2 separate regions of the Homo sapiens genome follow, and region 2 is linked to region 1. The links come from fine-mapping of genetic effects on gene expression. A gene starts in region 1. The other region holds a variant in brackets. All regions are shown on one strand. Distances are from middle to middle.

Evidence for each region.
Region 2: its variant is fine-mapped to the expression of ALOX5 in whole blood (TOPMed, PIP above 0.99).

The regions. Positions count from the first base shown.
Region 1 is chr10:45,370,822-45,376,340 of GRCh38, reverse strand. It overlaps ALOX5 (arachidonate 5-lipoxygenase), which reads right to left and starts at 2,125. Exons shown (of 14, transcript NM_000698.5): 1 at 1,912-2,125. The coding sequence starts at 2,061. RefSeq lists enhancers at 1,138-1,746, 1,747-2,357.
Region 2 is chr10:45,416,088-45,421,087 of GRCh38, reverse strand. The region is part of intron 4 of ALOX5 (arachidonate 5-lipoxygenase); the gene reads right to left. Among named protein-coding and RNA genes, the nearest start is that of ALOX5, 44 kb to the right of the region's middle. RefSeq lists enhancers at 234-735, 764-1,455, 1,456-2,149. The variant C/G (reference allele first, on the strand shown) is at 2,249.

The sequences.
Region 1 (5,519 bases):
CCCCCCGCCCCACCCCTGACTTATAGCCCTCTCAACCCAATGGAAATGTGACATGCAAATCTCTCCTGAAATTTGCCCCTGGGATTCCGGCTGAGGTGTTTAATTATAATGTCATTTGAATGACTTCTCAGGGTAGGGGAAGACAGACCGAGAGAGGGAGATAGTGGACAAAACAGTGCCTTCACTCTTTGTCCGAAGAGCCCGCTATGGCCACGTTATCATGTCCCCTGCAGGAGGAAAGCACACACGGGGTGCCCGTGCTGTGCAGTGTGAGCACACCAATGGCCTGTGCTTCTAGAACCTTATGATGTGTGGAGGAGAATGGGGAGGAGGAAGCACTTACAAAGGGGAAGTAGCCTGTACCCTGTCCTTCTCCCCCAGGTGTGGGGAATCCATGAAATAATGGAAGTAAATGAAGGTGCGTCAGAAATGGCAGAGGGTGCCATCACCCTAAATGGACGACACATTAACTCCAGGGCACCGCAGTCCTCAGGGTCAGTTCCCCGACTGGGGCAACTAAGCAACTGAAGGTTGCTCTTGTACTCAACACCTAACTCTTCTTGAAGGGAGCTCAAGCCAGGATGCTAGTGAACTTGGCTGAGGGCCATGTCGTGCTACAGCGAGGGTATGGGCTCCTGGATAGGAATCGAGCCCATGGAGAGCTTGGAATCCAGAAAAAGAGTAGTTTTTACTTACTTTAGGCTCTGCACACCTAAAACACAAATTTTATCCAAGAGTAATCAGTTGAAACATGAACTTGCCGGTTGTATTTGTCCATTATGAGCAATTTCACAAGGTTTGATCAAATAATAAACTAAATGGTGAGAAGGCAGCTTGGTAAAGTCTAAATCTTTTTGGTCCAGTTAGGAGCTGGGGTGGGGTGGAAGGGAACTGATATTCCCTGCGCACCTGCAGTATGTCTGGGACTATTACCAGTCATTTACGGAGCGCTTCCTCTGTGCCAGGTACTGGATTAGGCACTTCATTAAAGGCTCAGTGAGAACTGCGACCTGCCCATGCTCATGGAAAAGAGTCGTGGGGCTGGAATTCAGGTCCAGATCAGCATTAGGAACTAGCTTCCAAATGCTGAGGGCTCCCTCGCGTCCTCACACCTAGCGTGGAAGTGTTCCCTGGTGTACATTCTGCTGGGAGGGAGTGCAGCCCCTCCATTTAGGAAAAGCCTCTCCTGGCCTGGGTTCTGTTCCTTCCCTTTAATTTCCTCTGGGGACTGTCCTGAGAATGTAAGCTGCCCAGGTGCCGTCTGAGCCACCAGATGGGCCTGGGCTCACCCATGACTCATGGACCAGACTGAAGCCAACCCTCCATTTTCAGCTGGGGAAACTGAGGCCCAGACAGACGGTAGAGTGAGCTGGTGGTCATGTCTGGACAGAACTCAGGCCTCTGGACCCGCTGACGTGCACCCTTCCCCACGGCTCACAGCTGGCTGCTCCGAGGTGCCCTCAGAGTTCTGTGAGCATGACTCATCTGCCTCTCCCTCCCTGTGCGACCTGCAGAAGGAGCCTAAGGAAGAGGTGGCACAAGAAACGCGGCCCAGTGAAGGGGGCTCCGGAGCCTCGGAGCCCAGATCTTGAAGTGGAGGGGAAACCTTGGGCCTTCTCCTCCCAGGGAAGACGCCTTGCAGGCGGCACGCGGGAAGTCTCCGTTTCCGACAGGGGTCGCGGCCGCCGCGAGGGGTCCTGGACGCTTGCCCACCAGGGTACCCACCGGCCACTGGGAGCCCAGGGCACGCCCCACCGCAGTTCTGCCCTCCCTGACAGGGTCCTGGACACCCCCAGTCCTGTCCGGGCCGCCCCGACGGGCCCTCGGCGCCCCCGCCCAGGCCTCTGCCGTCCAAACCGGGTCCCGGACGCACCTCAGCCCGCGCTCCACCCGTGCCCCGCCCGCGCTCACCGCGCCACGCTCGAAGTCGTTGTAGAAGGGCTTGTCCAGCAGGTGCTTCTCGCTGCAGCCCGCCGAGCCCACGAGGCTGAGGTAGATGTAGTCGTCAGTGCCGGCGAACCACTGGCTGCCAGTGGCCACGGTGACCGTGTAGGAGGGCATGGCGCGGGCCGCGGGAGCAGCGAGCGCCGGGAGCCTCGGCGCGGCGGTCCAGGTGTCCGCATCTAGCGCCGCAGCCTCCTCCCACCACTGGTCCCTGGCCCCGGTCCCGGCCCCGCCCCGGTCTGGCTCCAGGCTCCCGGCTGCCCCCGCCCCCGCCCCCGCCCCCGCCCCCGCCCCCGCAGTACTTCTCTCCCACTCTTCACGCGGCGCCGACTGGGCGGGACCTCGCCTCGGGCGGGGCAGGGGCCTCGCTCCTGGGTCTCTCCTCAGCGAGGTGTCTGTTCCTGCAGCCAGGGGACTGGGGCAACCTCGGCTGCCACCCCTCATCCATTCGTTCACTCGTTCTCTCCTGAATTGCTTCCACCCTTTGCCCTGCCTGCCTGCCTCGGCTTCGCCCAAGGCCAGGCTCCTGTAGGCCCTGGGGTGGAGCTGCGGGGACTCCCTACAAATCTAGGCACAGCCTCTGCTCTCCCCAAGTTCTCAGTGCCACTTGCGGTACTTGGAGCAGGGGTGCTCCGGGAGTCTGCAGAGGAAGAGCGACCCATGAGAGAATCAGAAGGGCTTCCTGGAGGAGGCCACCCCAGCGCTGATACTGAGGATGGATTCTGGAGCACAGAGGCTCCTTCAGCGCGGGCTTCTTCACTGGCTGGACCTGCGGCTCCTGGCGGGGGCAGGCGGGCGCCGAGACCGCGCCCAGGCCCAGAGATGGCCAGTGGTCGCGGGAGGCAGGCGGGACGGCACATCTGGACATGCGGGGCTGTCTAGGGGAGGCCAGGGGTCACGGGTCGGCTCTCTGAATCGCGGCGGGCAAATGCCTGGAAGGGTGTGGAGAAGGTTTCGCGCGCTCCTGGGCGGCTTCCCGCGGCTGGGGCCTGACCCCCAGGTTCCCGCCCACTCCTGGCGCCCGCCTCTCCCAGCCCCGCCGGCAGCGCAGGGTCTGACGGGCACACAGTCGCGTGTATTGATCTCGGCTAAGTTTAAACACTAGCTCACCGTGCGTGGGGCGGCGGGGATGTGAAGTCCCCAAAGGCGGCTGCCTACATTCTCACCAACGCTTCATGTCTGTGAAGCAGCAGAGTCCCTGTAGCATCTCCTCATACTGTCTTGGGTTTGTGCACCTGGCAAATGGCTTTGAACATCTTTTCACATGCTTGTTGGATATCTGTATATTTTTGGAGAGATGTATATTCAGATGCTTGACTCTTTGGAAAACTGGGCTATTTATCTTTTTTATCATTGAATTGCATTATTTATATATCCTGGATAGAAGTCTCTAATCGGATACATGACTTACAGACATTTTTATTGCTTCTGCGGGTTGTGTTTTCACTTTCTTGATGATGTTTGAAGCACAAAAGTATTTAACTTTAAGTCCAATTTCTTTTGTCGCTTGTGATTTTGGGGTCCTATCTGAGAAACCACTGCCTACAATAACATCTTAAAGATTTACTCCTAGGTTTTCCTCTAGGATTATTATAGTTTTAGCTTTTCATTTACATCCGTGACCCATTTTGAGTTAGTTTTTATGCATGGAGCGATAGAAGAATTCAAATTCATTGTGTTGCATGTGCATGTCCGGTTGTCCATGCATCATTTGTTGAATTCATTATTCTTTTCCCATTGCGTTGTCTTGACACCTTATTAAAAAGTAATTCATTATAAACATAACGGTTTATTTCTGGACATTGATTCTAGTCCACTGATCTGTAATGTACATGCTATACAGTGCCACACTGCTTGATTACCGCAGTGCTATAGTAAGTTTTGAAATTGGAAAATGTTAATCCACCAACGCTGTTCTTTATTTTTCAATATTGTTTTGGTTATTCTGGATCCTTTGAGATTCCATATAAATTATAGAATCAGCTTGTCAATTTCAGCCAAAAAGCAAGCTAGGATTTTGATAGGGGTTGAGTTGAAGCTGTAGATCAATTTGGGGAATATTGTCACTTTAACAATATTAAGTCTTCTGATCCATAGAATATGTTTCAGCTTATTTAAATCTTTTCTTTTCTTTTCGACTCTTTGGAGTCTCCCTCTGTTGCCCAGGCTAAAGTGCAGTGGTACAATCTCGGCACACTGCAACCTCTGCTTCCCAGGTTCAAGTGATCCATTTACTTAAATCTTTTCTGATTTATTTCAAAATATTTTGTAGTTTTCAGTGCACTTTTTATTTCTAAATAATTTATGTTTGATACTATTGTAAATGGAATTTTAATTCATTTTGAGATTGTTAATTGCTAGTATATAGAAAAACACTTGATTTTTGTACATTCATTTTATATTCTGCAAACTTGCTGAACTTGTTTATTAGTTCTAATGGTTTGTGTGTGTGTACATGTGCACATTTTCTATATGCAAGATCATGTCATGAGCGAGTAGAGATAGTTTTACTTCTTCTTTTATTTGGAAGCCTTTTATTTCTTTTTCAGGGATAATTGCCCTAGCCAGAACCTCAGTACAAGGTCAAATGGAAGTGGCAAAAGCAGGCATCTTTGTCTTGTTCCTGGTTCAAGAGGTGAACACCCAGCCTTTCTGTATTAAGTTTGATGCTAGCTGGGGGTTTCCACAGATGCCATTTATCAGGTTGAGGGAGTTCCCTTTTATTTCTTTTGTTTTAAAGTGTTTTTATCATGAAATTTTCTGTATCAGTCGAGATACGAAATTTTTTCCTGTATGCTATATTAATATTATGATTATTTTCGTTTTAAAATATTTGATTGACAAATCAAAGTTTCTATTTCAAGGGGTAAAATGTGATGATTTGATATATGTATATATTGAATGCTGATTGTCACAGTCAAATTAACATATCTATCACCACCTATAGTTACCATTTGTGTGTGTGTATGTTGGGGGGGTGCTGGGGATGCTTAAAATCTGCTCTTATCCAATTTCAAGTAATAACGCAGTTATAAACTATAGTCACCATGCTGTACATTTGATCCCCAGAACTTATTCATCTTTTTTTTTTTTTTTTTTTTGAGACAGGGTTTCGCTCTGTCACCCAGGCTGCAATGCAGTGGCACTATCTTGGCTGACTGCAGCCTTGACTTTCCAATTTCAAATGATCCTCCCCCCTCAGCCTCCTGACTAGCTGGGACTACAGGTGTATGCCACCACTCCCAGCTGATTCTTTTATTTTTATTTTTTGTAGAGATGAGGTCTCACTTTCTTGCCTAGGCTGGTCTCAAGCAATCCCTCTGCCTCAGCCTTCCAAAGTATTGGGATTACCAACATGAGCCATCGCACCTGGCCTTCATCTCATAACTGAAAGTTTATACTCTTTGCCCAATATTTTGCTTCTTCCCCACATCCCCTAGCTCCTGATAAATACTGTTCTACTTATTCGTCTTCAAGTTTGAAATTTTTAGATTCGCATATAAATGAGATCATACAATATTTGTATTTCTGTGTCTGGCTTATTTCACTTAACATAATGTCCTCTGGGTTCATTC
Region 2 (5,000 bases), 45 kb before region 1:
CTTTTTCAAGGCCACACAGGCAGGTAACAGCCACCTTGATCACCTGGCCTAGGGGCAGTGACCTAGCTTTCTCCTGCATCTTCAGCTTTCTCCTGTGCCAAACTGTGGCCCAGGCTGGGCACCAGCTGTTGGCCATGTGCCCGGTGAGCCCCCCACCCCTCGCCCCTACTTCTCCCAGGACGGGCCGCATTTCTGCACTGTCCCGCCTCACTGGGAAGGAAACTCTCTTTCTCAATTTGCTTTAATGAGGCCATTGAGGTTCACCTAACCTCTGTCTCCCTGCTCTTTCCTTCTGCTACCAGCTTTTCCATTTTTTACGCCACAGTTGTGCTGTGCAGGGCAGGAGCAAAGCCTGCTGAGGAGGGCTGGCCCCCTTCCAGGTACAGCAGGTGGCTAGGAGGAACTGCGTGCCAGAATTACTCAGAAGCAGCGGCGAGGAAACCAAGCTGTCGCCAGCCAGAGGTTTAACGGGGAAGGCCTCCTCGGTGACTTCAGCCAAGTTTCAGTTTCCTGCCAGTGGGCACTGAGTTTAACCCACTCTAGGCGGGGAGTGTAGCCATCCAGATTTTAGCAAGGGCCCCAGGGGATTCTGACGCAAGCTATACTTTGAGAACCACTGCTGAAGAGTTTGCAATGTTTTCCAAATTAATTTGACTACAGAACAAATCATTTTTTTGAGGGAAACATGACTTCATGCTTTGTATTAACTCTTGGTCTTATTTTATGATGCATTTTTAACAACATGATGCTACCTTAGCAAATAAAATTGAAATTTTCTAGCCTCGTCTGATTTTTAGATGGGATACCACCCTACATTTTCCAAACAAATTTATTTTACAATGGGACACATCCCTGATTTCATAACAAAATTTAATGAAAGTCAATATGTTTTATAGGCATCAGTTAATAGAAGGGGATTATTTTTTAAATTTCCAAGGATTTCAGAGGCTTTCGGGTAGCATTTGGGAAGTTAAAAGTGGGAGAATCCTACTTGTGTCACAGGAAAAGTGGTTCCTATGAGTGCTTTGGTGACTTGGGGCCAAATGGTTTCTGAGTTGGGATGACGATAAGAGGGGATGTGGTCTTCTTCCCATATACAAACCCACGCTTTGCTTTCCAGTGCCAGGCCAGCAGGCCCCCTCCTCTTCCGGCCTCTCTTTCCTCCGCCATCACTTCTCCCGATCCCCAGCCTGGGTCCTCACCCTTCCTCCTGCTGCTACGTCCCTCCCTTCCTCCACAGGCACCCTGCCCGTCCACTGAGCTCAGGGCCCTTCTCTCCTGGCCTGGCCCCTCCGCAGCCTTCCTTGCCTGGGGGATATCGCTCCTTCCCTACACCCCTGGTGCCTTTTGAAACAGGGTCTCACTCTGCCGCCCAGGCGGGAGTTCAGTGGCGCAGATCACTGCAGCTTCCACCTCCCCGGCTCAAGCGATCCTCCCGCTCGGGAATCCCCGAACACTGGGATTACAGGCGTGAGCCTCCGCACCCACTCCCTACCGATCATCCCCCTTCAGGACGCTGCCATCCATGTAGCTGGGTCGTCTGGAGCACGGGGCATGTGGCTGGCCTGCGGGGCTGGGGGAGGGCCGGTGGGAGTGGCTGCCCTCAGAGCCCACCCCCTAGGCCTCTGCCTGCCCCCAGGTTCCCTCTCCCCCGTCCCTTGTCGGGAGTCACTCGTCAGCTTCTCTTCTCAGCCCGGCTGCGCAGCGCTCTCAACCCAACCCCTGGACTCATCTTCGCCCCAGCCTCCTTCGTGCCCAGCGTCCCTTGTAAATGACCCCCCCGGCCGGGTGCCCCGCTTTCTCTCTCGGCCTCTTCCGCGTGGTCTGCTCTCCGCCCGCCTGCGCTCGCCCGGCCTCCCTGCCTCTGCGCCTTCACCTGACCGCAAAGGCGGCCAGGGCAGCCTCCGCGCGGCCTGACAGTCACGGCTCCCAGTTTGTCCCTGGACGTGGGAAACTCGGGCTCATAGCGCCTCTACGTACACTGCGGCACAGACTGGCGTTTCCTACGGCGCCTTCACTGGAAAGCGCCCCTGTGGTCCTGGGGAGAGGGCGGCTCCATCCGCCACCCTTCCCGGAGCTGCCCCCGCCCATTCTCATGGGAGGAAATCGCAGGGCGTGTGAGCCCCCGACCCCTCGCCCCCACCTCTTCCAGGACCGGCCGCATTTCTGCACTGTCCCGCCCCACTGGGAAGGAAACTCTCTTTCTCAATTTCCTTTAATGAGGACATTGTCTTTTCAGCCCTGCCAC[C/G]CCCTGCAATCGTCTTCCAGGCTGCAAACAGCGAGTGGGGAGGTGAACACATCAGCTTTTCCTCCCTCCACACCACCAGGAAATTTCGCAAACCACTTGGCTCTCGGCGGCCTGGCCTCGCCACACCTGTGCCCACAGTCTCTCTCCGCTGCAGCCCCCTGTGCCATTCTCCAGGCCCCACGTACCTCTGCCTGGGCCCAGTAAGACCTGGTCAGATGGCCCCCGGCTGCAAAGCCTTCCTGGGCCCCATCAGAGAGGACGCCCAGGTGAAGCGAGGGTCCCCTGCCCACCCTGCAAGCGCAGGGGCCCTTCCAAGAGTGCAGCCCTAGGCCGGTGTGTGATGGTGGAGACGCGGTCCCAGAGGGCCTGAACCAAGAATGGAGAAGACAAAGGCTGTCTTTAGGGAGAAACTTCCCTGAGGGGCTGATGTGTGCGATCCCATTTTAATCTCACAACCCTGGGGAGGAGCTGGGGCCGGGTCTCATTGTTCATTTGAGGACACCGAGGCTCAGGGAACTTAGACGACTTTCCTAGGGTCCCCCCAACCCCCACCGGCCCAGGGCCCTCTCCCAGGCACCCCTCATCCCCACACAGGCTCCTCTAAGCTGCTTCCTTGTGGTCCAGCCCCCTTGGCTCAGCTCCTCAAATACAGGGACACCTCTTCTCTCCCCCGCAGAACTCAAGGGTCTCCATCCACTGTGCCAGCACAGAGGCGGTGCTCAGAGTGGGGCTAAGCTTACTGTCCAGCCTGCTGGGCCAGGAGGGGCAGAAGGGCCCCTCTCAGGATTCCTTCGCTCTGCTCCTGCCAATAGGCCATCACTCAAGGGGCTAATGACAGGACGATGTGGAGAAACGTGGGCTGCAGCACTTCTGGGGCCAAGGGCAGGGTGGGCGGCACTGGGGAGTACAGGGGAGGGGACCTCACTGGGGCCAGAGGCTTCTAGAAGCTTCTGCAAGAAGGGGCCCCTCACCCATGTCTTGGCCAAGAAGTGGGGAGGGTGGGTGTGGCAAAGGAAACAGCTAGGTCAGAGACAAGAGATGCTCTGCAAAGCCCTGCTGGCTCCCCACGGTGGAGCATCCTATGCATGTAGGACCTGAGAGATGGCAGGGGCGGGTGCGTCCCTATGGATGTATCTCCATTTCTGGGCAGAGACATCTGGGCTCTCACCTGCAATTGAGCCAACCAAGAAATTATATTTACTTTTTAGAGCGAGCCTCCAACAAATTATACAAGCACTTGAGAATAAGCCCTCCCACTGTCTTGAGAGATGGAGCCCAGGGAGGCAGCTGGAAAGATGCTCCTGCCCTCACTCAGGAGAGATGGTGGAGCTGGGAGAGGAGGAGGCACTCCCTGGGACCCAGCAGATGGACTTGACTCAGCAAATAGATGCAACCATATGTGGGGGGTGGGGAGGCCCAGAAAGGCATTACAGGCCAGTGTTCTTAATCCTGGCTATACACTGGAATCCACCAGTAGCCCTAAAATATAACTGTGCTGGACTTCCCCTGGTTCCACAGTTTGTGCAGAGTGGGCAGCATGGAGTCTGTAACACTAAACACACAGGATTGAGAACCATATGTCTAGGCTGTTGTTAGCCATGATGGGGATACATGAAAAGGAGGTGCACAGTTACCTTCTATACCACAGGATAGGTGCTCATTAAACCCTGTTAAAATGGACTGTGACCCAGCTGGCACTCAGGGGCACTCAGGGGCCAGGTGGGTCACACTTTCATTTTAATAGGATTTAATGAGCACCTATTCTGTGACAGCTGCTAAGATACAGAGGCTCCTGAGATACAGAGATGACAATGACCTTCAGAAACACTGAACAGAGATAAGAAAGGCACAGTCTGGCCTTCACTCCACCATTAATTCCTCCATCCATCCATCCATCCATCTATCCATCCATCTCTCTGTCTATACTTCCATCCATCCACCATCCATTCACCATCCACCCATCAATCCATCCACCCATCTATCCATCCATCCATCTCACTATCTGTCATCCATCCATCCATCCACCATCCATGAATCCATCCATCCGTATATCAATTTCTCATCTATCTCTCCATCCATCCCCCATCCACCTCTTCTTCCATCCTTCCTCCTTCCCTTCATCCATCCATTCATCATCCATCCCTCAACCCATCCATCTGCCTGTCCATCGGTTTGATTGTCCATCTGTCCAGTATTCCTCCATTCCCTCCAAACTGGGTGGCAGTACTCTCCACCTCACTACCTCACCATCCTTATTATTCCCTCCAAACTGTCTCTTTCACAAGGGCCTTCTGTCCTGCCTGTCCCATCCTGGTCTGGGACCTATCCCACTAAAGCTACATGGCTTTGATCAACAATCCCAATCCCAGAGTAGGGGAAGGGAAGTGAGCCCCTAACTGCCGTGATGTTTCCAGGGAGATGGTGGATACTGCTGCATTACTAATCCAGATGTTAGGTTTTAATTTTTCTCTCCAGTAGACCCCAATTGTGGTAGGAGAAAAATGCCCCAGCTTTGGACACAAACAGACCTGGATTCAAATCCTGGTTTTGCCAATTTCTGCCTAAATGACTTTAGGCAAACTCCTTGACCTTGACCCCTTGGAGACTCAGTTTCCTCACCTAGAAATGGTCAATAATATTATTTACCTCCCAGGATGGCCATGAAGCTTAAAATAGATTATTGTACCCCCCAAAACACCGACACAATGTTTAGAAATAAATAATATTATTTTAAGCTTTGAAGTCTGGCTGG